Linked DNA regions of Homo sapiens. The protein of the gene in region 1 interacts with the protein of each later gene in a pairwise test. Each region holds a gene or a part of one and is shown on either strand. Other genes may lie near its edges. The genes, in order: CNOT7, TNRC6C, PATL1, PSMC2, SCARA3, TCP11L1 and LSM3.

Region 1 (3,500 bases):
TTTTTTTTTAGCTCAACAGCTATTGTTAGCATTAGTGTATTTTATGTGTGGCCCAAGACAATTCTTCCTCTAGTGTGGCCCAGGGAAACCAAAAGATTAGACACCCCTAGTGTAAATGGTAGCAAAACTTGGTAGTAAACTTTAGCAGTCATTTTTGAGTAAGAAAGAAAAAATGTCACTTACAGGCTGTACTAAGAAAGCAGTTGTTACTCGAACAAAGGTGTTTCTAGAAAAGGAAACTGTCAATTTTATCCAAACTGAGAAGCTGATGGGTTACCTCCTTCTCACGTACTGAGATCACAATAGTATCTAATTTAAAAACAATGTTCTAATTCACTTGAACAAAAAGTTAACATGGAACAAATGAAATGGTAAAGCACTAATTTTAATAAAGGTTTATCATTTGAGAAAAAGGATAGGAGGCAATTTTCAGTGTTTCACAGATGTAGTTCTTATAAAAGGTTTTCAGTTTGAGTGGAGTACTTTGCACCCTTTATAAATGAGGTGTTCAATCTTTTGGCTTCCTTGGGCCATACTCAAAGAACTGTCTTGGGCCACACATTAAATAAACTAACTTAAACAACAACAAAAAAATCTCATAATGTTTTAAGAAAGTTTACGAATTTCTGTTGGGCTGCATTCAAAGCCATCCTGGGCCAAGGGTTGGACAAGTTTACTTTACAAGGTTCTGTAGACTGTGCGTGTGTGTATAGATACAGGTATTTTTAGAGACAAAGTATCACTCTGTTGCCCAGGCTGGAGTGCAGTGGTGCAATCTAGATCACTATAGCCTTGAACACCTCAGTTAAAGCAATCCACTTGGTTCAGCCTCCCTGTACCTGTAGTGCTAGCTACCTGTACCTGTACCTGTAGTGCTAGGACTACAGGTACACAGCCACCATGCCTGGCTTAGTTTCATTTTTTTTTTTTTTTTTTGTAGAGACAGAGTCTATGTTGACCAGGCTGGTCTAGAACTCCTGGCCTCAAGCAATCCTCCTGCCTTGGTCTCCAAATGGAGAGTATATTATTAAACCCAAAAGAGTGAAATGGAGAGTCAGGCTAAACACAGTGTAATTACAAGCCACACTACTATACCACAGGCATCATTACTCTGCTTTTCCTAAGCCCTACTTTCGTAAAATTGTGTATACTAAATATCTTTGTTTATCTGACAAAGAACAGGAAGAAAGAATTCATACATTGGCACTACCATTAATTGCCTACAGTTTCTTTCACTATTTTACCTACCAGATATTAGGATGTATGACACAAATGTAGGATGTCAAACAGAAGAACAATGCAATATTGCAACATACAGTTAAGTACTCACTCAACGTTATCAATAAGTTCTTGGAAATTGCAACTTTAAGCCAAAAGATGGATAACGAAACCAATTTTTACCACAGGCTAATTGATAAAAACAAGAGTTAAGTTCCTACGGCATATTTCTGGTCACAAAAAAATCATCAAACTTCTAGATAAAGACCAAAATACTTCTAATATTAAACAATGAAATAAATGTGAGCTATATGTAAATTTAAGAACAATTAATAAAAACAAGATAATTATTTGCTCCATTATTCAGTTGAGGGGTGAAGAAAGCCAGAGCCTATTCTGGCAGCTCAGGGCACAATGTGGGAACCAACCCTGGTCAGCATGTCGTTCCGTGGCACAGTGCACTCACACAGATACACCTACTCACTCACACTGGGACAACTTAGCCACACCATTTCACCTAACGTGCACAGCCTTGGGATGTGGGAGGAAATCAGAGGACCCGGGAGAAAATCCACATATACACGAGAACGTGCACACTCCACTCAGGTAGTGGCCCGGGTCAGGAATCAATTTTATTTTTTATGAAGGTTACCATGAAACAATGTTGAAGAAAATGTCATTTGAGGTCCTGCTGTAATAAGAATGTATTATTTTATTTACCCAACTTAGTTTGCAAATAATCTGCCCCTCTCTAAAAACATCTAAAACTTCCCTTAGCTATCAAGACTACTTCTATTAATAATACAGAAATATTATAACTAAGGAAACTGGGTGAAGACCCAGGGCTTGAGTTAGAATGAAGATTCTGACATATGATAAACACCAGGTTCAAGGATACTACTACTTCTCCTATATGTAAATTAAGAGAGCTTTTGTGGGCTGAAGTGGCAACCTAATGATAATACTGACTTGAAAGGAAAACGTACCCAAGGTTCCAGAAAACGTCTTACTGCATTTGACATGTAATCTACTCATAAACTGGAATATGAATGCAACAAAAATCTTCACAAGAAGGATAAATATTATAAAAGGCTATATTTCAAATTGCACACAAAATTTTTGAAAGTAAAACTAATGTAGGATTATTTTTTCTATCAGAAGTACTTTCAATACCCAGTCTTCCAAATACAAAAAAAGCTGCAGTCATATTTTAAATATAACATCTTTAACATCAAAGTATTTTTTTTGGTCCCATAGTAAAAAAGAAAACCACGCTTTTGAAATGTTACGTTTTATATATTTCCAGGATAACTACACCAAATTCACCTAGCATGTCACCATACTTGAGGAAAATCAATTCCTAAGATTAAAGAAAAAAAAAAAAAAGTCTGGGTTATACAGTTATTTCCCACTTACGTCAAATTAAATTTAAAATTAAACTGCCAAGTTGAAGTTCCTGGAGGGTATTCTCCTTGCTCATTCATAAATGTCAGTCCTAGCTGAATTATCTTTAACAAGTCTACATTACACCGCAATAGTTGGTATTGATAGTCAGCATTGCTCCTGAATTCTCCAATGGGTCTTGCAACCACACCTGGAAACTCGGTGTCCTGTAAAATAGTTTTAAGATTCATTATGTACTAAACAGTCAAAACTACAATCCACACATTTTTAATTTTTGATGCAAATCAAAGAATCCTACAGATGATATTCTACACATTTATATTCAATTACAAAGTATATTTTAACTAGAAAGAACATCACTTTTTAGAACCATAAAACTCTATAAACTTAATAACCTTTCCTTAAATATATCCAAAAAGTTACTATACGAGATACATGTGATAAATTTAACCAAATACTTACTCTATAACCAAGAAAGGGGGGAAAATCATAAATTCCTGTCTCCCAAAGGATACATGAAATGATGCTCACAGTATTCCAATGCTAAAACCAAGTTTCTTGAAGAACTGGTTCAAAAGAGGGGAAAACGCCCTGTACTTTCCAATTGCTTCTCTGACACAAGGTTTTTCTCAACACCAAAACCCTAAGAAAAACATCATTAGCTTCCTAATTTCTCTGGCTTAAACAATATTCTCTCTATAGTCCACAGAAAGCATGCTGTCAAGAATTGCATGCCACCTACTCACTCTTGTAGGATGTTATCACTTCTCTATGTTGCCACTCTTTATCATCTGAGAAATCAATGATCACTATGAATTTCCATTGGTTAAGAAAACAATTTTAGTTCTAATCATGGGTAAGTACACCTTTATCAAATA
Region 2 (3,500 bases), on another chromosome or scaffold:
CTTCCATTACTGTTCGCTCCCCCTGCTCCAAGGGCACTCTGATTAGAAGGGCTTTGGACGAGTGCGCCATTGGTGCCATTATTGCCATTTGTCTTCTTGGTATGTCCAGTGAAGTTGCCCTGGGCACTCCCTGTAGCCATGCTACTGTTCTCTGAGCCACAGTTGGAGGCAGAGTCAGTGTCTGTAGTACATTCTGAGGCAGATTCAGTCTCTGTTCCTGTGATGGAAGGCCACGCCTCCTTGTCAGTCCTATCTATTATCACTTTATCCCAGCTGCAGTTGGCTTCGCTTCTGTAAGTAGGCTGCTGTCCCCAGTGGGAATTTTCATAATGATCTGCCAATCCACTATGACTGAGATCTGAAAAAGATGAAACAAAATTCAAAATTAGATTTTCTACTCATTTGTCAATGAATCAACTGTTAACTAGTCTTTGGGGAAGCTCTTTATTTCAAGTCTTCAAATCTGAATGACAAACACTAAAAAAATGACTTAAAGAAAAAAGCTATTTGTCTTCTTAATAGATCCCATTTTAAAGAGCGTTAATGTTTTTAAAATTATATCAATTCTTACCACTACACTGTACTATTATTCCCCCTGGAGAATACTCACAATGCACGTTAGCACATCAGCATCTCTGAAAGCATCTGTAGTAAAGGCAGCTTTGAAAGATAAGTGACTTTGCAACTCCTATAAATACAGAGACTGAGAAACACTGGCAATGACAGTAAGTTCACGTAGAGTTTTGAATAAAACTTGTAGTTCTCTTTAAGACCTCTAATTAGGTTACAGTATTATATAGAGGCGAAACATGGCTTTCAGTAGAAAAAAATTGTAAATTGCATTGCAGAATCATAACAGAACCAATATTTGGGGTGGGGGAAGTGGTGACGGAAGGAAAGAGAGAAAAGACATATGAGACAATGCTATCTTATGTTATCAAAAATACTAAGGATTAGAAATGTTTAATTAGCTGTATACTACTTTATCTGATCTTATCTGCAATTTGGTTTATCACTGTCTCCTGCACATTCATAATAAAAAAAAAAAATCTGTAGCTCAAGGACATCACTAAAAGAAGAAAAAGAAGGAAGAAGAATCTCAGCCCCACAAGTGCTATCTTTTTGGATCTCTAAAGATTCTCTCAATCCTTGTTTTCTATTTCTTTAGAGCCTTTTCTTTGGAGATCCCTAGAATAACTTTATATGCCATCTTCTTATAGTATTTAACTCTTCGGGTCCTTTTAAAGAATCCCCTGTTTGGATCTACATTTTATTTCCTATGACTTTAACAATTATTTGAGTATTTCCAACATTGCAGTCAAACTTATATTTCGATCAACTTTTTGGCAGACTTTATTCCAAGTATGTATCACTAAAAAATAAAGTAAAAGAAATGTTAAAAAAATAATTTAACCCAAACATACAACAAACTCACATATGTGATTTAGAAATCCTTGGTGAGTTTCTCTAAATACTACAATATACAAATAAACTGCAATAAAATATTTTCTTCTCTTTTAGATCCTTTTAATTATGTTCTCTTCAAATTTATTTTAACAAGAAAAATCGTATGGACAATTAAAACATGAATTTCCCACATAAATTCTCTTTTAAAGTTTGATGGAGCTAAAGGAAAAAAAGGAAGTGTGCAAAAAAAATTAGCATTAGAAAGACCATACTAAAGCTAATATCAACCTAAAAGAGATTTTTATTGCCTGATTTAAGAGTAATGTAATGATTTTAGAATTATGCTCTAGGTGATTTCAAAGTAGGTACGTAATTCCAGGTGAAAACTACAAAGGAAAAATGAAGACAGGCAACAGAAAACTTTAAATGTTGAAACTGCTATAAAATGACTAGGTTCTTTTCACTGCCAATTATTAGGGGTTGGCTCTATAACCCTGGTTTATGACAATTTGGTTTTGCACATACTCTAAAAACTATCTAATATAATAACTAACTAAAGAGATAAATAAGCCATTCCTCATTTAACACAGAAAATAAGACCAAGTTAACACACAGAGATTATGGCTTGTTGCCAGCAAATATTACCACATTTCATTTTACCATCAGTTTGGGTTCCCTCATGGACAGGTTGTGCCATAAGGCAGGCTGCCTCTTGACTAAGACAGCACTCACTGCAACCCACACCGAGAAAGCAGGGGGTTAACAACCTGGCTGACCAATGCATTCTTTTCCATATGTGAGGTGCCATTCGAATACACAGTATTATTGGTTCCATTCCACAACAGTCACACTGTAAAATGATCTGCCCTTTGTTAATGGTCTACTTTGAGGACTTGAGGATTGCTCAGCCCCCAATTTGACAGGTTCATACTCAATTATATGACACGTTTGAAAGAAGGATAGCATTATAAGCTGGTGGCTAATAAATGCTGTTGGACAACTGTCTAGCCACATGAAATGAAAGTAGATCCCTTATATCGTATACATGCCAGATAAAGTAAAGAGCGAATTAGGAAAAGCAAAACTTCTTAAAGCTTATTAAGGAAGCAAAGGAGACCATCTCTATGACCTTGGACATTGTATCATCTTGTAGAAGACATGAAATACGTAAGACATAAACAGGTGATAAATTTGACTATGCTAATATTAAAAACATCTATATAACAAAAGATATCATATAATGAAAGCTAAAAAAACAAGCCACAGGCAGGGAGAAGATACAACAGATAATGTATGGTTATCAGCTTAAAGAATTCCCGGCCAGGCGCAGTGGCTCTCGCCTGTAATCCCAGCACTTTGGGAGGCCGAGGCAGGTGGATCACCTGAGGTCAGGAGTTCGAGACCAGCCTGGCCAACATGGTGAAACCTCGTCTCTACTTACACAAAAATTAGCCGGGTGTGGTGGTGCACGCCTGTGGTTCCAGCTACTTGGGAGTTGAGGCAGGAGTATCACTCGAACCCAAGAGGTGGAGGTTGCAGTGAGCCGAGACTGTGCCACTGCACTCCAGCCTGGGCAACACAGTGAGACTCCATCTCAAAAAAAAAAAAAAGAATCCTAAAAATCGGTAAGAAAGAGGCCAACAACCCAACCAGAAATGGGAAAAGGATAGGAACAGGCAATTTAGAAAAGAGAAAACTCATAAGCCATTAACATATGAAACAATAATCAACCTCATTAATAATCAAGAAATGCACTTTAATGTCACACTGTAGATGAAAGTGACACAACACTACAATTTTTGAATTGTGGTTCCCTCTGGGGGTGGGATGGGGACCAGAATGGGGTTAGAGGATGATACCTATAACATTTTTAAAATAGAGAGCCCTGAAGCAAATATGGCATGATATTATGTTAAATCTCTATTGTGAACACAGTTATATTATTTTCTATATACTTTCTTCTATTGAAAAAATATTTTCAAAATTTTTAATTTTTATGTTTAAATGTGATACAAATCAGGCGGCAGAGCAGTCTGATTAAAAACCCATCTGATCCCTGAATTAAGTGTCTAATTTCTGAAGGTGAGTTCCTT
Region 3 (3,500 bases), on another chromosome or scaffold:
TGGGGTCCTGGGCCAGGAGGGTGCTGCTGTGGAGGTGGTGTAGCGGAGGGTGGAGCACTAAAGAAGGCACGGAAGCCTGGTGCTGGGGGAAGCATCTGCCCAACTCGCCCTTGTAGCAACTTGGGATTCATGGCAGCAAGTGGACTACCAACAAATCCAGGGACCCGTGCAAACTGGCTGGGAGACATCCGTCCAGGCTGTAGCTACAAAGAGGAAGAAGATCTTAGATTTAGACAATCAGCAAGTCCCCTTGCTTTTGTCTACAGAAAAGTGAATACGGTTTTCCATCAATAACTTTGTTTGAAAAAGTAAAGGCAAAAATAAAAGTAGTGATTAACAGCAAAAAAAGGGGCTATTATCTAATGAACTTTAGGAAAGTAGGAGAGTTCTTTATGGGTAGGGCTAATCACAGGCTTACCTGTGCTCCTCCAAGAAGCTGTGCTCTCTGGAGGGGGCTGAGAACAGGAGGAACACTAGGAGGAAAAGGGTGACCCAGGAGGGAAGAGTTCTAAGGTAAAAAAAAAAAAAAAAAAAAGAATATGCTATAAAACAGGGGGTACATCATAATAAGGAAACTCAGCAGAAATGCAGTATAAACTTGGATATAAAAACTCTCAAATTACAGAGTCAAGCTCTGGAATAGAAAAAAAGAGTAATGCTAGAAATTATAAAAACACCATGACCATGTGACATGAAAAAGAAGCAGTAGAACATGGGACTGAAATGGTAGGAACCAGATGATCACAATGAGTTTAGATTTTTAAAGGTAAGAAAAGAGCTGATGTAAGAAACAACTGTCCTCTGACCTGGGGACAATTAGATCCAGCAATTTAAGTAAGGAGATTATAAAAAATAGGTATAATTTAGGAGATGTCAGCAAATCTAAATACTGGCAGTGATCTTACAAATAGTGATCAGAAAATACATACTGCACATTTTTGTTAGGCTTAAAGTGACATACCGGGACACTGCAGAGCTGGTTTGGAGACATCCTCTCACCATAGGGAGCAGGATAACGAGGTGGCATTGGGGGCCGAACATGGACAGGCTTCGGACACAGAATCTATCAGGACAAACATATATACAACTACACTCAATGAAATCAGTTTTTCTTCCACCTACACTCCCTCCCCTCAAGTACTGGTAGAGACACGAACTCAATGCAAAGCCCTACTTCTAAGCAAATTGCTATGGCTACAGGTTCAAATACAGAACCTTGGGCCACTTTCTCTCACAAATCAAGTAAAGTGTCAGCATTAACTGAGGAAGATTTAGCTAATTCTCCAGTTATCCCCACCCTTCCATGCTGTCTGAGGGAGATACCAGCAGATATTCTGACTTGCAAATTCTCTCCAAGAGGATATATTTTGGTAGCACTGAGGGAGAAGGAATGATAAGAAAGCTGGAGGATTAACTAAGTCCTATTCTGAAGCCCCTGTGATATGGCCGCCATGCTCAGCACTTTTGTGATACATTGTGACTCCACCATTTCATAGGATTTGAGCCTAACTAGGCCATACCAACACCACCCTCCCCCCATACCTTCCAAATTGGCCTTCCTTTTCAGCTGCTGGTTTCAGGTGGAGGAAAGTCTATGGAACAGGACTGCACAGGCTCTAGGGAAAGCAGGGATATCTTAAAGGTAAAAAGGGATGTGGACAATGCTGTGTGTTCCCACTCCCCCCGGCTTTCAGTTATCTCTCTGACAATGTTTTGGGCAGCCAGCAAAACACTTCAAAAAGGATATATGTGCTAAATGTGGCTAACTACCCTTTTTTCTCCCCCAATTAAAAGGCAGCAGCAATAGCAGCAGCAAAGGGTATCAGGGAATGTGTCTCTTATTTGTACTAATTTCTCCTCTAACTAGCTATTTTTCTTTCTAATCTAATGCCTACCCAAAATTTCCACCCTCCACCCAACATCACCAATTTTCCAAATAATTTTGCCCAGATTCCCAATATCCTGGGCTGTGTGCTTGTTAATGAGAGGTACCTGTTGGGTGAAGCTGGGTACAGCCATCTGTTTAGGTGGGGTGCCTATGGGGACAGCTCTAACAGGAGGACTGCCAATGATAGGTGAAGTTGACCGCCTTGGTAATGCTCGTTCAGAAAGGTCCCGATCATCTTCTGGACCCTGGGGGGGCCTCTGAGGCAAAGCATATTCTAATACAGACACTGTAGGCATTTCCTAATTGAGGAAGTGGTAAAATAAAATAGAAATTAACTAACTTGGTATGTTTTAGTAATCTCTACAGATGCCAAAAATACCTTAAGAAATTTTTTTAACTTTTTATTTATTTTTAATTCACATATAGTAAAATTCACTTTTTGGTATATGGTTCTCTGAGTTTGGTAAGCGGCTCATGCCTGAAATCCCAGCGCCTTGGGAGGGTGAGGTGGGAGGATCACTTGAAGCCAGGAGTTTGAGACTAGCCTGGGCAACACAGCGAGACTTCATCTATACAAAAATAAAAAAACTAAGCCAGGCATGGTGGCATGCACCTGTAGTCTCAGCTACTCAAGAGGCCGAGGTGGGAGGATCACTTGAGCCCGGAAGTTCAAGGTTACAGAGAGCTATGACTGTACCAGTGCACTCTAGCCTGGTTGACACAGCAAGACCTGGTCTCAAAAAAAAAAAAAAGAAAGAAAGAGAGAGCAAGAACAGTTGCATCACTCCCCAGAAATTCCATTGTATTGTTCCTTTGTAGTTAACGCCTCCTGCCATGTCCAACCACTAGTAAACACTGATGACCTCTCTGTCCCTATAGTTTTGCATAGAAATGAGTTTTTTTTTTTTTTGAGACAGAGTCTCACTCTGTTGCCCAGGCTGGAGTGCAGTGGCGCAATCTTGCCTTACTACAACTTCCGCCCTGCCTCCCAGGTTCAAGTGATTCTCCTGCCTCAGCCTCCTGAGTAGCTGGGATTACAGGTGCCCACCACCACGCCTGGTTAATTTTTGTATTTTTAGTAAGGATGGGGTTTCACCATGTTGGCCAGGCTGGTCTTGAACTCCTCACCTCAAGTGATCCACCTGTCTCAGCCTCTCAAAGTGCTGGGATTACACGCGTGAGCCACCACGCCTGGCTCAGATATGACTTTTTAAGTGATTCAAATCACAATCATACACTAACAAATTTAAATTCCAATGGCTCCCTTGCAACCTTTACCCTGGAGGCTAAAGAAAGGCATAGCTAAGTGCTGGATGCAGTAGTCGACATAATTCTAGCAAATGAAAGACCTATAAACCCCTTCAGTAAGGAAAGGATGACGACAGGAACTTAAAATTTTTGGATATTATAAATTTTATGTAAAGAGAAAATATTTAATACCTGAGCAAGCAGTGGTCCTCGGATTCGCCTCAGAACTTCAGATCCATCCCAGATACTGGAATTCAGACTTCCTGGTTGGGGCTAACAAAAAAGGAAAACATACAGAGTCTGAAATGTTGTATACTCTCTGGGTGACTTATCTGCTGCTGGGGAACAAGGTTCCAAAAGAGCC
Region 4 (3,500 bases), on another chromosome or scaffold:
TTAGTGAAGATTACTAGAAGCTGCCAGACATTCTTTTCTAATTGTTTCTTTTTATTTTATTTTTTGTTTGGTTTTTTAATTTTTGGTTTCTTAACTTCTTCTAATTATTTTGGAAGGACAATACCAAAACAGTTTTTATTTCAACATAAAACATCTATAGTTTGTAGACACTGAAAGGACTTACATAAGTTTTCAACAAGGCAATATCCCCCTCATCCAGAGCTGAAAGAAGAGAGACAATACGTGAGATTCAAAAAGAAACTAGAATTAAAATTTTTAAAAAAGAAACTAGAGCTTTTTTTCTGTTCGATTCAAATTGTTTTAAGTGAGTGTCAAAAATCAAGCAAGATTATGATGATACATATTCAATCAAATAGTTCCTGGACTCAAGGAATTTTTATCTAACTGGGAGGAAAATAGGTTTTTAAAAGTACATAATATACGTGATGACCTATTTTATATAGTACATACATAAAACACATCCATTAAGGATCTTGGTTAAATTATACCATAGTCATACAATGAAATACAATGCAGGCCCCGTGCGGTGGCTCCTGCCTATAATCCCAGTACTTTGGGAGGCCCAGGCAGGCAGATCACCTGAGGTCAGGAGTTTGAGACCAGCCTAGCCAACCTGGCGAAACCCCGTCTCTACCAAAAATACAAAAATTGGCCTGGCATGGTGGCGCATGTCTGTAGTCCCAGCTACTCAGGAGGCTGAAGCTGGAGAATTGCTTGAACCCAGGAGGCGGAGGTTGCAGTGAGCCCAAATCACATCACCGCACTCCAGCCTGGGTGACCGAGAGAGACTCCATCTCAAAAAGAAAAAGAAAAGGAAATACAATGCAGCAATTTAAAATGATAACAGAACATAGACATAGAAAGCAATCCAACAAATGCTATTCAGTGAATCAGGTAGGTTTAAAAAAAAGGATATAATGTGCATATATTTTGTTTTTATATAAAAATCACTTAAAACACATGTGGAGAGTAACCTGAAATGGTGTTCTACGGTGGTTATCTGGGATTTCAAGTGATTTACAGTTAATCTTTTCTATTCACAAATTCTGCATTTCTGAATTTGCTTAGCTGCTCAAATTTATTTGTAATCCCCAAATCAATACTCATGTGCTTTCATGGTCATTTGCAAATAGACAGAGTGGTAAAAAATTTAAGTTCACAACTAAGAACAAGTCACTCTACCCTCTTGTTTCAGCTTTCATACAGAGATGACCAGAAGATGGAGACCGTAGGGGAAATGCCGTGTAATCCAAGCAGTTCAGGCTTTGGGGCCAGGTGGACAGGGTTTGAATGCCAGCTCTGGAATCTGTTAGTGGGGTGACCTCAGCCAAGTCACTTAACACTTCTGAACTTTGTTTTCTCTTTTGTGAAATAAAGAAAAAATGAATCTACCAGGATGAGTTGTTTTTAGGATTTAAGATTATAATCAGCCGGATGCTGTGGCTCACACTTGTAATCCCAGGCCGAGACAGGCGGATTGCTTGAGTCCAGGCGTTCAAGAGCAGCCTGGACCACATGGCGAAACCATGTCTCTACAAAAAATGCAAAAATTAGCATGGTGGTATGCACTTGTAGTCCCAGCTACTTGGGGGGCTGAGGCAGGAGGATCGCTTGAGCCCAGGAAGTGACAGCCACAGCAAGCTGAGATTGTGCCACTGCACTTCCACCTAGGTAACAAAGTGAGACCCTGTCTCAAAAAAAAAAAAAAAAAAAAGATTATAATCTATGTGAGATGTATATATATATTTCTCCTAGGATCAAATGTTCAGTACTTCCCAACTGACCATTCACAGCAACTTTATAGAATATATCTATCATGAAAAACAAGAACCAATCATACAATCGTACATATTTTAAGGAAAAAAACGGCAGGTCTTTTTTTTTTTTTTTTTTTTTTTTTTTTTTTAACTAAGTATGAGTAGAGGTAGGAAAAAGCATGCTTAGGTAACAGCAGCTAGACCAGGTAAGCTGAAACATAGTATACACATTAGGCGGTAATAGGAAATTAAGTAGATGGAGGTTTGGGGCTCTAGTGAAGTAGACCATAAATTCTAGAATGAGGTAATCAGGGCCACTACAGTTGACATTATAGGAACTGTGCCTTAGGAAGAATTAGCTCGCTGAGATATGAAGAACAAATTGGAGTGAGGCCACTCGGAAGTCATAAGAACCTAAATAAAAATGGTAGCAATGAAAAGAGAAAGGAAGAGTTGGATTAAAAAAAAACCCTCAGAGGAAGAATCTACAGCACATGGCAAATGACTAAATGTGAGAAGCTGACGGGAGAGGATCAAACATGATGCCCAGGCTTTGGACCTAGGTACCACACAACAGAAGTCACAATAGAAAGTGGTTAGCAGAGGGAGATACGAAGTTCAGTTTAAATTTTATTAAGTTTGTGGTACTGTTATCTGCACAGAAGAGTTAACTGCTATCCTTTGAAAGGCCTGCTTATAAGGTTGGTTCTTGGCTCTTGTCTGAGAACAATTTCAGAGGGTTCCTACCATTCCCAGAACTGAAAAAGGTGGTTCACTGTGCTTAAAATGTTTATACAAACTACAGGGTTTATGCAGAACACTTATCTTCCTTCAGGGAGTCTAGAATTTTGGTATGTTCTAGGCAGAGATGCCTACATTACCAACCCATAATAAAAACCCTGGGTGCCAAATCTCTAACGAGCTACTCTGGTTAGCAACATTTTACACATATTGTCACTACCTGTTGCTGGGGGAATTAAGTACATCCTGTGTGACTCCACTGGAAGAGGACCCTTGGAAGCTTGTGCCTGGTTTCTCCTGGACTTGGCCCCATGTGTCTTTTCTCTTTGCTGATTTTGCTTTGTATCCTTTCACTAAAATACATCATAGCCATGAGTATGACTACATGCTGAGTCTTATGAATGCTCTTAGCAAATTACTGAGCCTGAGGGTAGGCATGAAGACTATCCAACACACCGGCATATCCTGATGCAGCATTCTAAAAGGCGGAGATAAATCTGGCTCTAGAGGTCAGATGCTAGCTTGAGGTTAAAAAGGTTGACTAGGGAAGCACATACAGTCCAAGACCAGAATGGATGAAATTAATAGAAACAAAACTTTAGAGAAGCCATGTGAGGACACAATGAAGGAAAGAAAAGAAGCAGGCGGATAAACGGGAAGGTTCAGCAAGAGAAACCAAGGGAAGCTCAAAGGCTCAACAATGTCAAAAACACAAGGATTAGGATTGAGAAATACTAAAGATCTGGGAATTAAGAAACTACTGCTCAGTTTCAACTGATTTATATAGATAGAAACTAAAGTGCAAGAAGTTTAAAAATAAAATAAGAGCCTGGCATGGTAGCTCACCCCTGAAATGCCAGTACTTTGGGTGGCCAAGGTGGGAGGATCACTTGAGCCCAGGAATTTGAAACCAGTCTAGGCAACATAACAAGACCCTGTCTCTACAAAAAAAAAAAATAAGTTTTAAATGAGCATGGCATG
Region 5 (3,500 bases), about 10 Mb from region 1:
ACAGAAAACCAAAGACCACATGCTCTCACTTATAAGTGGGAGCAAGACTGAATACATGTAGATGCTGGGTGCAGTGGCTCACGCCTGTAATCCCAGCACTTTGGGAGGCAGAGGCGGGCGGATCACGAGGTCAGGAGATCGAGACCATCCTGGCTAACACAGTGAAACCCCATCTCTACTAAAAATACAAAAAATTAGCCGGGCATGCTGGCTGCCGCCTGTAGTCCCAGATACTTGGGAGGCTGAGGCAGGAGAATGGCACGAACCCAGGAGGTGGAGCTTGCAGTGAGCCGAGATCACACCACTGCACTCCAGCCTGGGTGACAGAGTGAGACTCCGTCTCAAAAAAAAAAAAAAAAAAGGTTGAATACATGTAGACATAAAGATGGCAACAATAGACTTCAGTGCATACTAGATGGGAGAGGAGGGAGGGGGTTATGGGCTGAAAAACCACCTATTGGGTACCTGGGCTCACTACCTGGGTGACAGGATCATTTCTACCCCCCCAAACCTCAGTGTCACGCAATATAACCAAGTAACAAACCTGCACATGTGTCCCTTAATCTATAACAACAAAAGTTAAAATTATGGAAATAGATAAATAGATGGCACATATTAAAAAAAAAGAAAAAAGAAAAGAATCGTGGCACAGCTTAAGGCAATGATGAGGAAAGGGTTGACCTGGCAGGAGGTTTTGCAAGGTCTTGAAACTCTCATCATTTCAGATGCATGAGGCTATTTTGGGAATGGACTATCTTTGGCTTCCTTCTCTGCCTGTAGACTCTGGCTAGATCTGTGGTCCACCCAGAATCCCCTGCTCCAGTCCTGGGAGTATCCCAGGGTAGCAGCCCTCCTCTAATGGATGGAGATCCGGCTGGGGAGGGAGCAGGGAGCTGGGGATAGCCTCTGTGCCTAGAAGGCTGGTGAAGGTTGCTTGGTGCTGGGGCACTGTAGCGTGGGGAGGGCACCCCTGCCCCACCCTGAAGATCACTGCATCACAGTCATCAGCCCATCTACTTACCCAGGCCCTGGAGATTTTTCTGCATTAACACAAGCTTCTTGTCATAAATAGACTGGGTCAAGGAGATGTCTTCGGAGAGAGAGTCCACTTTTCTGAAAACTGTAGGGAAAACAGATGAGAAGCTGGGGCAGGGTCTAAGCTCAGAGAAACAGCAGTCATTCCTTGAGAAGGCATCTTTATCAGCTCCTCTGCAACCAAAACCTTTCACCCTTCTTCTCTCAGGCTTCTTCATGGCGGTTAGGGAAGATACTTCTTATGGCCAGAGTTTGCCACAAGGCCCTTTAGAAACAGAATAACTCACCCCACACCCCACATGTTAGAAATAGGACCTGATCACAGAATGGAACAGGGAAAATTCAGAAAAAAAATTAAAAAAAAATTATTCTTATTCCTACCACCCAAAGGTTGCTGCCATCAGTGTCTTCATGGATTTCTTCTAGTCTTGTCTACATTGATAACCATTCTTCAGCTACATAGATATATACAGTGTTCCCCTCTTACCTGCAGGGGATACATTCCAAGACCCCCAGTGGATGCCTGAAACCTCAGTGTATGGAACCCTAAATATGCTATGTGTTTTCCTATACATACGTACTTAAGATAAAGTTTAATGTATAAATTAGGCCTAGTAAGAGACTAACAACAGCTAATAATAAAATAGAACTATTAGAACAGTATGCTATAATAAAAGTTATGTAAATATGGTCTCTTTGTATCTGAGAATATCTTATTGTACCATACTCATCCTTCTTCTTGTGCTGACATGAGATGACACCATGCCTACGTGACGAGATGCAGTGGGGTGAATGACATAGGCATTGTGACTTAGTATTGGGCTACTACTGACCTTGACCATATGTCAGAAGGGGGATCATCAAGCCATGATGTTGCCGATTGACCTAGGGTAACTGAAACTGCGGATAAACGGGGACTACTGTACTTTCTTAGGCAACAAAAGCAAAACTGGGATGTTCTGAACATCTCATCTGTTTTCTTTGATGCTGCTTTATCAGTATCATGTCACGGACATTTTTCCATCCAGGGTTAAATCACTTTAAAATCACTACTTTTGGTATCTGCATGGCACTCTATATAAATAATACAGCAATTATGTAAGAATCTCCTACTGTTGAGGACACTTAAAGTACCTCTTCTTCTGAGCTCATAAATAAAACTTGATATATAAATATAAGTAATGCTTAATTCTAGAAATAATCCTTATATATGATGGTTATGTGTATATGATAATTCTCTTGGGATAAATTGCTTAAAATAGAATTATGGGACCTAGGGTATTAACATTTTTGAAGTCCTTGATACAAGCTGCCAAACTGCTGCCCAGAAAAGATTACACCACTTTATACCCCACGGGCAGCCTTGCACTCTACTAAGGGGGCCATGTTGGCCAGTGGTTAGAGCACGTCTTGGCAGCAGCAGGACGCCTGGCTTTTTCCAGCGGGTGCCTGAATGGGCCTGGTAGTGAGGGAGGGCATGGGTTGTTCTGAGGTTCAGCAAGATGCTTCCCACAGATCCTCTTAAGGTCAAGTACAAGGGGAAAGAATTAGCACCACCAAGAGCACTGAGTAACACAGCTTCTAGTCCTAGTTTACATCACATTTGTTGGGTGACTTTGGGCAAGTCAGTTACCCTTTCTTGAGCTCAGTTCAATCATATGTAAAATGAAAATGTGGAGCTCGATGACTCTAAGGCTCTCATCAGCACCAAAATTCTATGCTTTCAAATTATTTGGAATCTCCAGGCTCCAGTTAATATTGTACATCTCAGAGCTGTCAGTAGATTTACTTAATTAGTAACAGCAACATGTTGAGAGAGTTTGGGAATAAGCACATGCTGTTACATGAGACAAGCACTGTACAGTTTACAATAGTTATGATTCCATTTGAGCCTCCCTACAATTAAGATTTCATGCATAGATGAACAAAGACACAAAGAGACTGAGTGACTTTGATTCCTATTCCTATGCTTCATTAATTCTACTTCCAAGCCAACAGCCGAGGCTCACTCCACTCCATATAATTCATTCACCTGTTCATTTCTTTTTTCTTTTTTTCTTTTTCTTTTTTTTTTTTTGTGAGACAGTCTTGCTCTGTCACCCAGGCTGGAGTGCAGCAGTGTGATCATGGTTCACTGCAGCCTCAATCTTCTGGGCTCAAGTGATCATCCCACTTCAGCCTCGTAAGTAGCCAGGACTACTGGCATGTGCCGCCAGGACTACTGGCATGTGCCACCATGCCCAGTTAATTTTCAATTTTTTTTTTAATTGAAATGAGTTGGGGTCTCACTATGTTTCCCAGGCTGGCCTCAAACTCCTGAGCTCAAGTGATCCTTCCACCTTGGCCTCCCAAGGTGTTGGGGTTACAGACATGAGCCACTGCACCTGGCCTTGCTTATTTCTTCATTGTGCATCTCAGGCTTAATAATTATATATTTGCTTTTTAAGCCATTTTTCCTCACTTTT
Region 6 (3,500 bases), on another chromosome or scaffold:
TGTTCAGCATGGAAGGGGAAGAAGTTTCTTTAGATAAAGCTGTGAACAACCACACCTCTGTTGTGGTTTCCATCAAGATGAGTAAAAACAGGAGAAAAATTCAGCAGCACAGACTGGAGCCTCATACATTGCTGGTGGGATGGTAAAATGATGCAGCTGCTTTGGAAATCAGTTTGGCAGTTCCTCAAAATGTTAAACTTAAGAGTCACCATGTAACCCAGCAATTCTAATCCTAGGTACGTAACCAAGAGAGGTAAAAACATATGTCCATGCAAAAACTTGTACTGGAATATTCACAGAAGCATAATTTATAATAACAACCCAAATGTTTGTCAACTGATGAATGAATAAACAAAATGTGGTACATCCATACAGTAAAATATATTATTCAGCCTAAAAAAGAAAGGAGGGCTGGGCATGGTAGCTCATGCCTGTAATCCCAACACTGGGAGGCCAAGGAGGGAGGACCACTTGAGGCCAGGAGTTTAAGATCAGCCTGAGTAACATAGCGAGACCCCTGTCTCCACAAAAAACACACTTAAAAATTAGCTGGGGGTGGTGGTACACTCTTGTAGTCCTAGCTACCCAGGAGGCTGAGGCAGGAGGATCACTTGGGCCCTGAAGTTCAAAGTTACAGTGAGCTGTCGTACCACCTAGCCTGAGCAATTCAATGAGACCCTGTCTCTAAAATTTAAAAAAATTTTAAAAAACCCAGAAAGGGAACACTGACACATACTACAACATAAATGAACCTTGAAGACATTATGCTAAGTAAAATAAGCCAGACCCAAAAGGACAAAGATTGTATAATTCCACTCATATTAAGTACCCGGATTAGTCCAATTCACAGAGACTCAAAGTAGAATGGTGGCTGCCAGGGGCCAGAGGGCGGGGGCAATGGGAATTACTGTTTGGTGTGTTTGGTGGGAAGACAGTTTCACAGAAGGAAAAATGAAAATGTTTTGGAGGTGGCTGGTGGCAATGGTTGCACAACAATGTGGATGCACTTAATGCCACTGAACTGGACAACTAGAAATGGTTAAAATGGTAAATTTTATGTTATGTGTATTTTACCACAACAACAAAAAAAACACAGTGGAAAAGAGGACTAAACTACTGCTATATGTGCTACAACGTGAAAAAACATTGGTGAAAGAAGCCAGGCACAAAAGGCTGGTAGTGTATGATTTCATTTAAATAAAATGTCCAGGATAGGCAAATCCATAGAGACAGAAAGCAGATCTGTGGCTTCAGGCGTTGGAGGGAGGGGGGGAGGGCAGTGACCGCTGATGGATGCAGCGTTTCTATTGGAGGTGATGAAAATGTTCTCAATTAAACAGTGGCAATGGATGCGTAACTCTGTGACTATACTAGAAAACACTGAGTTGTACACTTTAAAAGGGAGAATCTTCTGGTACATGAATTATATCAGAATAAAGCTATTCTTTTTATTTTTTATTTTATTTATTTACTTATTTATTTTTATTTTTTGAGACAGAGTCTCGCTCTGTCGCCCAGGCTGGAGTGCAGTGGTGCAATCTTGGCTCACTGCAAGCTCCGCCTCCCAGGTTCAAGCAATTCTCTGCCTCAGCCTCCCAAGTAGCTGGGGCTACAGGCCCCTGCTACCACGCCCAGCTAATTTTTTGTATTTTTAGTACAGAGGGTGTTTTGCCATGTTGCCCAGGCAAGTCTTGAACTCCTGACCTCAAGCAATCTGCCTGCCTCTGCCTCCCAAAGTGCTGGGATTACAGGAGTGAGCCACCGTGCCTGGCCAAAGCTATTCTTTTTAAAAAGTTCAGCAGCACAAAAACAAATATGAGTAGTGAGATGGCTCAGGAGACCTACTTCGGGGAACGGCCTCTGGAGGTGGTCCCACTTCAGAAGCTTCAGGTAAGCGTAATTCTGGACAGCAACAGGGCTCAGCCTGGGCATGTCCCCAGAGCCAGCAGCCATTCCCCCCACTGGCAGGGCGTGTTTATACTTCTGAGTCATAAGGTCCTCTGAGGCTTCTTCCAGCCACTGGGTGACAAAGTCCAGGGAATCTGTGAAAAACAAAGCTGCACACATTACCTTGACACCAAGAAGGGATGCTTCTCGGAATTACTTAAGGGACAATCGATGTCCTGGTGGAGTGATAAAGTATAAAGTATGAACTTTGGAATCAAATAAAACTTGGATCAAATCATAGTAGTGCCAATGACTAACTGAGGGATCTCAGGCAAGTCATAATGTGTCTGAGTTTCAGATGCCTGATATAGGCAAATTTACAACACCCACCTCACAGGCTGTTGTGAGGATTAAACAAGATAATGAATAAGCCAGGCATGGTGGCTCATGCCTGTAATCCCAGCACTTTGGGAGGCTGAGGTGGGAAGACTGCTTGAGCCCAGGAGTTCGAGACCAGCCTGGGCAATGTGGCAAGGCTCTGTCTCTACAAAAGATACAAAAATTAGCTGGGCATGGTGGCACATGCCTGTAGCCCCAGCTAGCTGGGAGGCTGAGGCAGGAGAATCACTTGAGTCCTGGAGGTTAAAGTTGCAGTGAGTGGTGATCACACCACTGTACTCCAGCCTGGGGGACAGAGCTAGACCCTGTCTAAAATAATAATAATAATAGTAACAAATACATGACACCTAGCCAGGCCTTGCCACCCACCTGGTATTTAACAAACCTTCCTTCCCTTCTCTCCCATCCTGACCACTGCATGAGATGGACCCCAAAGCCCTGGCAACTCCAGCTCTAGAGACAGATAGGATGAGACACCAGCTAGAGTTTCCCTGTGTAAAGTATCCTCTACACTGATGATGAGGCTTTTCCTTGTTTAGATCTTAACCTTGTATCAATCTGGCTTCCTTTCAACCTGGGGGAAAGTGAACTCTGTCAGGGAAGCCCCATCTGGCTTTCAGCAGCCCTCCTGCACCCCTGCTTTTCTAAGCTTGGTAATGCAGGGGGCACTCTGAGGGATACAGAGAGAGAGCTGGAGGATCTCACACATCATCTGATAAAAACTGCACCTGTCAGGTCCCAGCAGGTGTTGCAGCTCTGTTAGTGGAGGCTTCCTGCTTCCTTAAAACCAAGTGGGCGGCCAAGGTCACAGCTGTGGTTTGCTCTTCACTGGGGCAGGGGGATGCAGCTCCAGTTTACCCTGAGCTCTCGGTCATGACTCCTGGGCCATCTGGCTTCACCCTCTCTTCTGCTGATAATATTCTCCGTAACCCCCCAGCTTTGGGAAACCCAGGCTTTCATGTTGTGAGTTAAGTGCTAGATGCAGGCACTGTAGCTGCTTCCACCCTACCAGTGAGTCCTCCACTATGCCCCAGCTTCCAGGTCCAGGCCTTAATATTACGGCTCTTCAGGCTACAAAACTCTGCCTAGCGGAGGTTGCAGTGAGCAGAGATCGTGCCACTGCACTCCAGCCTGGGTGACAGAGTGAGGAGACTCTATCTCAAAGAAAACAACAACAACAACAAGAAAAAACTCTTCCCAGTACTCTCACAACA
Region 7 (3,500 bases), on another chromosome or scaffold:
AAAAAAAGATAAAGATAAAATTATTTACAGCAGAATAGGTTTTACTAGCAAAATATTGGAAATGGCTATCTGTCCATCAACAGGAAAACAGTTAAATTATGGTACATCTACACAGTGAAGTACCATAAAGCTAAAAACGAAAGCACAAGGAAGCTATGTATGAAAGGGAAAGAGCACTGTGATAAAAAAACAGGGGAAGGGAGAATAACTAACACTCATTAGCATATGCATAAAGACACGAGAAGATTCTCAAGAAACCAGTAATAGTGCTTATGTCTGGGGGTGGGGTGTAAAGATGATGAACAGAGGCTGGAGTGGAAGACATTTTACTGCACTGTGTTCCTTTCTGCATTTTGTAATTTTAAGACTGTGTGAGTCTAGTATCTATTCAAAAAGTTAAATTAAAATGGAAGCAATTTAAAATGAGTAAGAAAAGAAATATGTGTTAAGTACTATACGGTGATATGGACCATATGGTCTCAGCATGGACCATAAAGAGTTAGTTATGTATGAGGGAGCAGGTCTAGAGCTGCTCTAATATGAGTGCCACTAGTCACAGGTGGCTCATTAAATTAAAATTAAATAAAATTAAATGTGCAGTTCCTTAATCACACCAGCATCCATTTGAAGTGCCAAATAGCCACATGTGGCTCATAGCTCCTGTAATGACAGCATAGATAGAAATTTTCACTGCTGCAGACAGTTCTATTATTACAGTGCTAATCTACAGAAAGGTCTAGAAGAGCCATCTGATGCTGTAGAAGGCCTTCGGGCAAGCAGAGGGAGCAGAGGGCTTAGTTACAAAAGGGCACAACGTCCCCAAGAGAAACTGTCTGGTGAGCCAAACTACGAGGTGTTTGGTGAAGGAAGGTAGTACACATGATGGACAGCCGAAAAAGTAGTCTGGGTCAAATAACACAGACTGTTCACAATCTGTAAAATGGAAACTCCAATTATGGAGGACCAAGAATCAGAAGAGTAAGACTGACTGCTTTCCACCTTCCCATTTATAAGTCAGCAGCCAAATTAATTATTTAGAAGTCAATTATGTAAGTTATAGGGGGAAAAAAACCCAACAACCTGATGGTTTATGGGTCCCCCATACTGTTTTGGTGGTAAAACGTTGATGTTCATTAGTTATTTCAATAGACGAGAGAGAGAGCGAAATGTAAAATGGGCCAAGGTAAGAAACCATTTAGTCTGGTTTCCCATCTTGGAGAGGAGTAACAAGAGCGCACAGGAGAGTGAAGTAGTTGTTCTCCATGGCACTGAACCAGATGCAGACACTCTCTATAATATCACTGTCTTTGCTTTCTATGTCTATAGTTAATACACATTTACACACTAAAGTATTCTCAGTCATCCAAAGATTCAATTTTAAATGTTTTACCCAATACATCATGGCAATGTGAAAAAGAACTCATTAACTAAATAGACTTTGCTTACTGTTCTCAGCTGCAACTCTAGGCGCAAGAGAGGCCACATGCACGCAGCACGCAGCGTTCAGGAGCTAACCAGCCCCAGTAGCCTTTCAAGGCAGCAATTAATCTTAATGGAGGTCAGTAACTACTGAGACTCTGTTACAGACACCCCACCCAGAGAAATGCACATGTGCACAGACACATAGCACCTTCAAACAGTGTCAGGAGGAACCGCACTTGGAGCAGACTACTAGGGATGACACAGGTGGACCCTGCTGTTAGTTCACTGCAAACATGGAGTAAGTGGCAGTGTTCCCTTCTCTGTAATAGACACCACAGTTGAAGAGTCATTTCTGTCACAAGCAGAATTCAAGACAAGAGCATTAAAATGCTTATGAAGAGTCTACTCTCATGGTAAAATTCTTATGTTAATGATGTTACATGAATAAAGCAGAATATTAAAGCCACATATTCCATATTTTATCACATTTAAGGTATCATTTGTAAGCTTAGTTGAGCTGAAAAAGGATAAATTTTGCCAATTAAACTATGACACAATTCTTTTTTTATCACATCACCTGTAAGATGCAATCAGATTTTTAAGATGCTAAAATTTAAGAAAAAGTGCATCTTAGTACTTATGATTGTGTCCATGTTAAGAAAACAATAACCACTAAACAATAGTTAATAAATGAAATTCCTAAAGGGGAAAAAATGCAGATTTTAAAAAATGCTATTCTTTCTTGGAGAAATAAGCCAGCAAAAATACATAAATAAATAAGTAAAAATTTTAAAAAAAGAAAAAAATGCTAAATGTTTACACTCAGAAGGAGAAAGAACACTAGCAAAGGAGTCAGGTGTGGTCAGAGAGAGGAGGAAAGCCAGGATAAAGCAGAACTACAAAATCCAGTGAAGGCTAACAGTTTAACAGTGACAACGTGCCTGTCACTATCTGAAGGCTTTTCATGTAGCCCTCAATGAATCCTCCACAGTTGTATGAAGTGGGTCCTATCATTACTCCCATTTTACAGACAAGGAAACATATCCACAGACAGGTTAGGTGAGCTGGCTCAATTAAAAAGGTGGTAAGCAAGGGAGTCAAAATTTGAATCCATGTAGTCTTGTACTCTGAGCCCACATTTTAACCACTATGCCCTGGCAGGGTCAGAAACTGTCTTTCCAAATCTTAAAGACCTTTCTTTCTGCTACGGCCTGGCATAGTGGCTCCCACCTGTAATTCCAGCACTTTGGGAGGCCAGGAGTTCGAGACCAGCCTGGCCAACATGGTGAAACCTGTCTTTACTAAAAACACAAAAATTAGCTGGGCGTGGTGGCACATGCCTGTAATCCCAGCTACTTTGGAGGCTGAGGCACGAGAATTGCTTGAACCTGGGAGGCGGAGGCTGCAGTGAGCTGAGACTGACATTGCACTCCAGCCTGGGTGACACAGTCAGACTGTCTTTAAAAAAAAAAAAAGACCTTTCTGACAAGATCACTGGTGATAACTAATAAATGTGATTTTTTTTAAACACTGAAGAAATAAAATGAATCTGCATAGCCCAGTGAACTACTATTTTCTAAAGAACCAGTGCCTGATGTAACCAAATCATGCATGAGTAAGAGATCCATTTGAGGTGCAAGGCAGATTAATGAATTTTCACCTAACAAGAGTACGAAAAGTTTACTGTTACCGTTTCAGATTCCAGATGGCAAATAATCTTTGACTGACTACCACTTGTTCAGTTTGGGTGTAGTATCAAAGGTAGAACATTCACAAAACAAACTCCTTCCTTTCCAACTACCTATCTGTGTGGTCAGATTTGCTTCAATTACAACAACAACTCATGATAGATTTAACGCAGAAAAAAGATATGAGAATCTTCTAGCTGTTATCGATTAAGCGGGGCATTAAAGAGATTTGCAAAAATGTAAAACAAAGACATTCCTCATTAAAATTTTGTTTTAGAAAATAGTTATTGTTCATAAAAATGTTACTTACAGTAACACGTGATAGGTTTTTTTTTGTTTTGTTTTGTTTTGTTTTGAGACAGAGTCTTACTCTGTCCCCCAGGCTGGAGT

Evidence for each region.
Region 2: the proteins of CNOT7 (region 1) and TNRC6C interact in binary tests that used the Homo sapiens proteins (3 or more experiments, as listed by UniProt).
Region 3: the proteins of CNOT7 (region 1) and PATL1 interact in binary tests that used the Homo sapiens proteins (3 or more experiments, as listed by UniProt).
Region 4: the proteins of CNOT7 (region 1) and PSMC2 interact in a two-hybrid assay, tested with the Homo sapiens proteins (one large-scale study listed by BioGRID).
Region 5: the proteins of CNOT7 (region 1) and SCARA3 interact in a two-hybrid assay, tested with the Homo sapiens proteins (one large-scale study listed by BioGRID and IntAct).
Region 6: the proteins of CNOT7 (region 1) and TCP11L1 interact in binary tests that used the Homo sapiens proteins (3 or more experiments, as listed by UniProt).
Region 7: the proteins of CNOT7 (region 1) and LSM3 interact in a two-hybrid assay, tested with the Homo sapiens proteins (one large-scale study listed by BioGRID).

The regions. Positions count from the first base shown.
Region 1 is NC_000008.11:17,240,358-17,243,857, forward strand, and holds part of CNOT7 (CCR4-NOT transcription complex subunit 7), read right to left. Parts: intron 3,266-3,500; exon of another isoform or gene 3,085-3,265; intron 2,829-3,084; coding exon 2,635-2,828; intron 1-2,634. UniProt on the Homo sapiens protein: Has 3'-5' poly(A) exoribonuclease activity for synthetic poly(A) RNA substrate. Its function seems to be partially redundant with that of CNOT8.
Region 2 is NC_000017.11:78,045,703-78,049,202, reverse strand, and holds part of TNRC6C (trinucleotide repeat-containing gene 6C protein), read right to left. Parts: intron 359-3,500; coding exon 1-358. UniProt on the Homo sapiens protein: Plays a role in RNA-mediated gene silencing by micro-RNAs (miRNAs). Required for miRNA-dependent translational repression of complementary mRNAs by argonaute family proteins.
Region 3 is NC_000011.10:59,655,538-59,659,037, forward strand, and holds part of PATL1 (protein PAT1 homolog 1), read right to left. Parts: intron 3,410-3,500; coding exon 3,329-3,409; intron 2,188-3,328; coding exon 1,993-2,187; intron 1,064-1,992; coding exon 962-1,063; intron 509-961; coding exon 419-508; intron 204-418; coding exon 1-203. UniProt on the Homo sapiens protein: RNA-binding protein involved in deadenylation-dependent decapping of mRNAs, leading to the degradation of mRNAs. Acts as a scaffold protein that connects deadenylation and decapping machinery.
Region 4 is NC_000007.14:103,350,643-103,354,142, reverse strand, and holds part of PSMC2 (26S proteasome regulatory subunit 7), read right to left. Parts: intron 1,414-3,500; exon of another isoform or gene 1,254-1,413; coding exon of another isoform or gene 1,217-1,253; intron 223-1,216; coding exon 185-222; intron 1-184. UniProt on the Homo sapiens protein: Component of the 26S proteasome, a multiprotein complex involved in the ATP-dependent degradation of ubiquitinated proteins.
Region 5 is NC_000008.11:27,654,402-27,657,901, reverse strand, and holds part of SCARA3 (scavenger receptor class A member 3), read right to left. Parts: intron 1,121-3,500; coding exon 1,022-1,120; intron 1-1,021. UniProt on the Homo sapiens protein: Seems to protect cells by scavenging oxidative molecules or harmful products of oxidation.
Region 6 is NC_000011.10:33,060,072-33,063,571, reverse strand, and holds part of TCP11L1 (T-complex protein 11-like protein 1), read right to left. Parts: intron 2,058-3,500; coding exon of another isoform or gene 2,043-2,057; coding exon 1,846-2,042; intron 1-1,845.
Region 7 is NC_000003.12:14,185,317-14,188,816, reverse strand, and holds part of LSM3 (U6 snRNA-associated Sm-like protein LSm3), read right to left. Parts: intron 1-3,500. UniProt on the Homo sapiens protein: Plays a role in pre-mRNA splicing as component of the U4/U6-U5 tri-snRNP complex that is involved in spliceosome assembly, and as component of the precatalytic spliceosome (spliceosome B complex).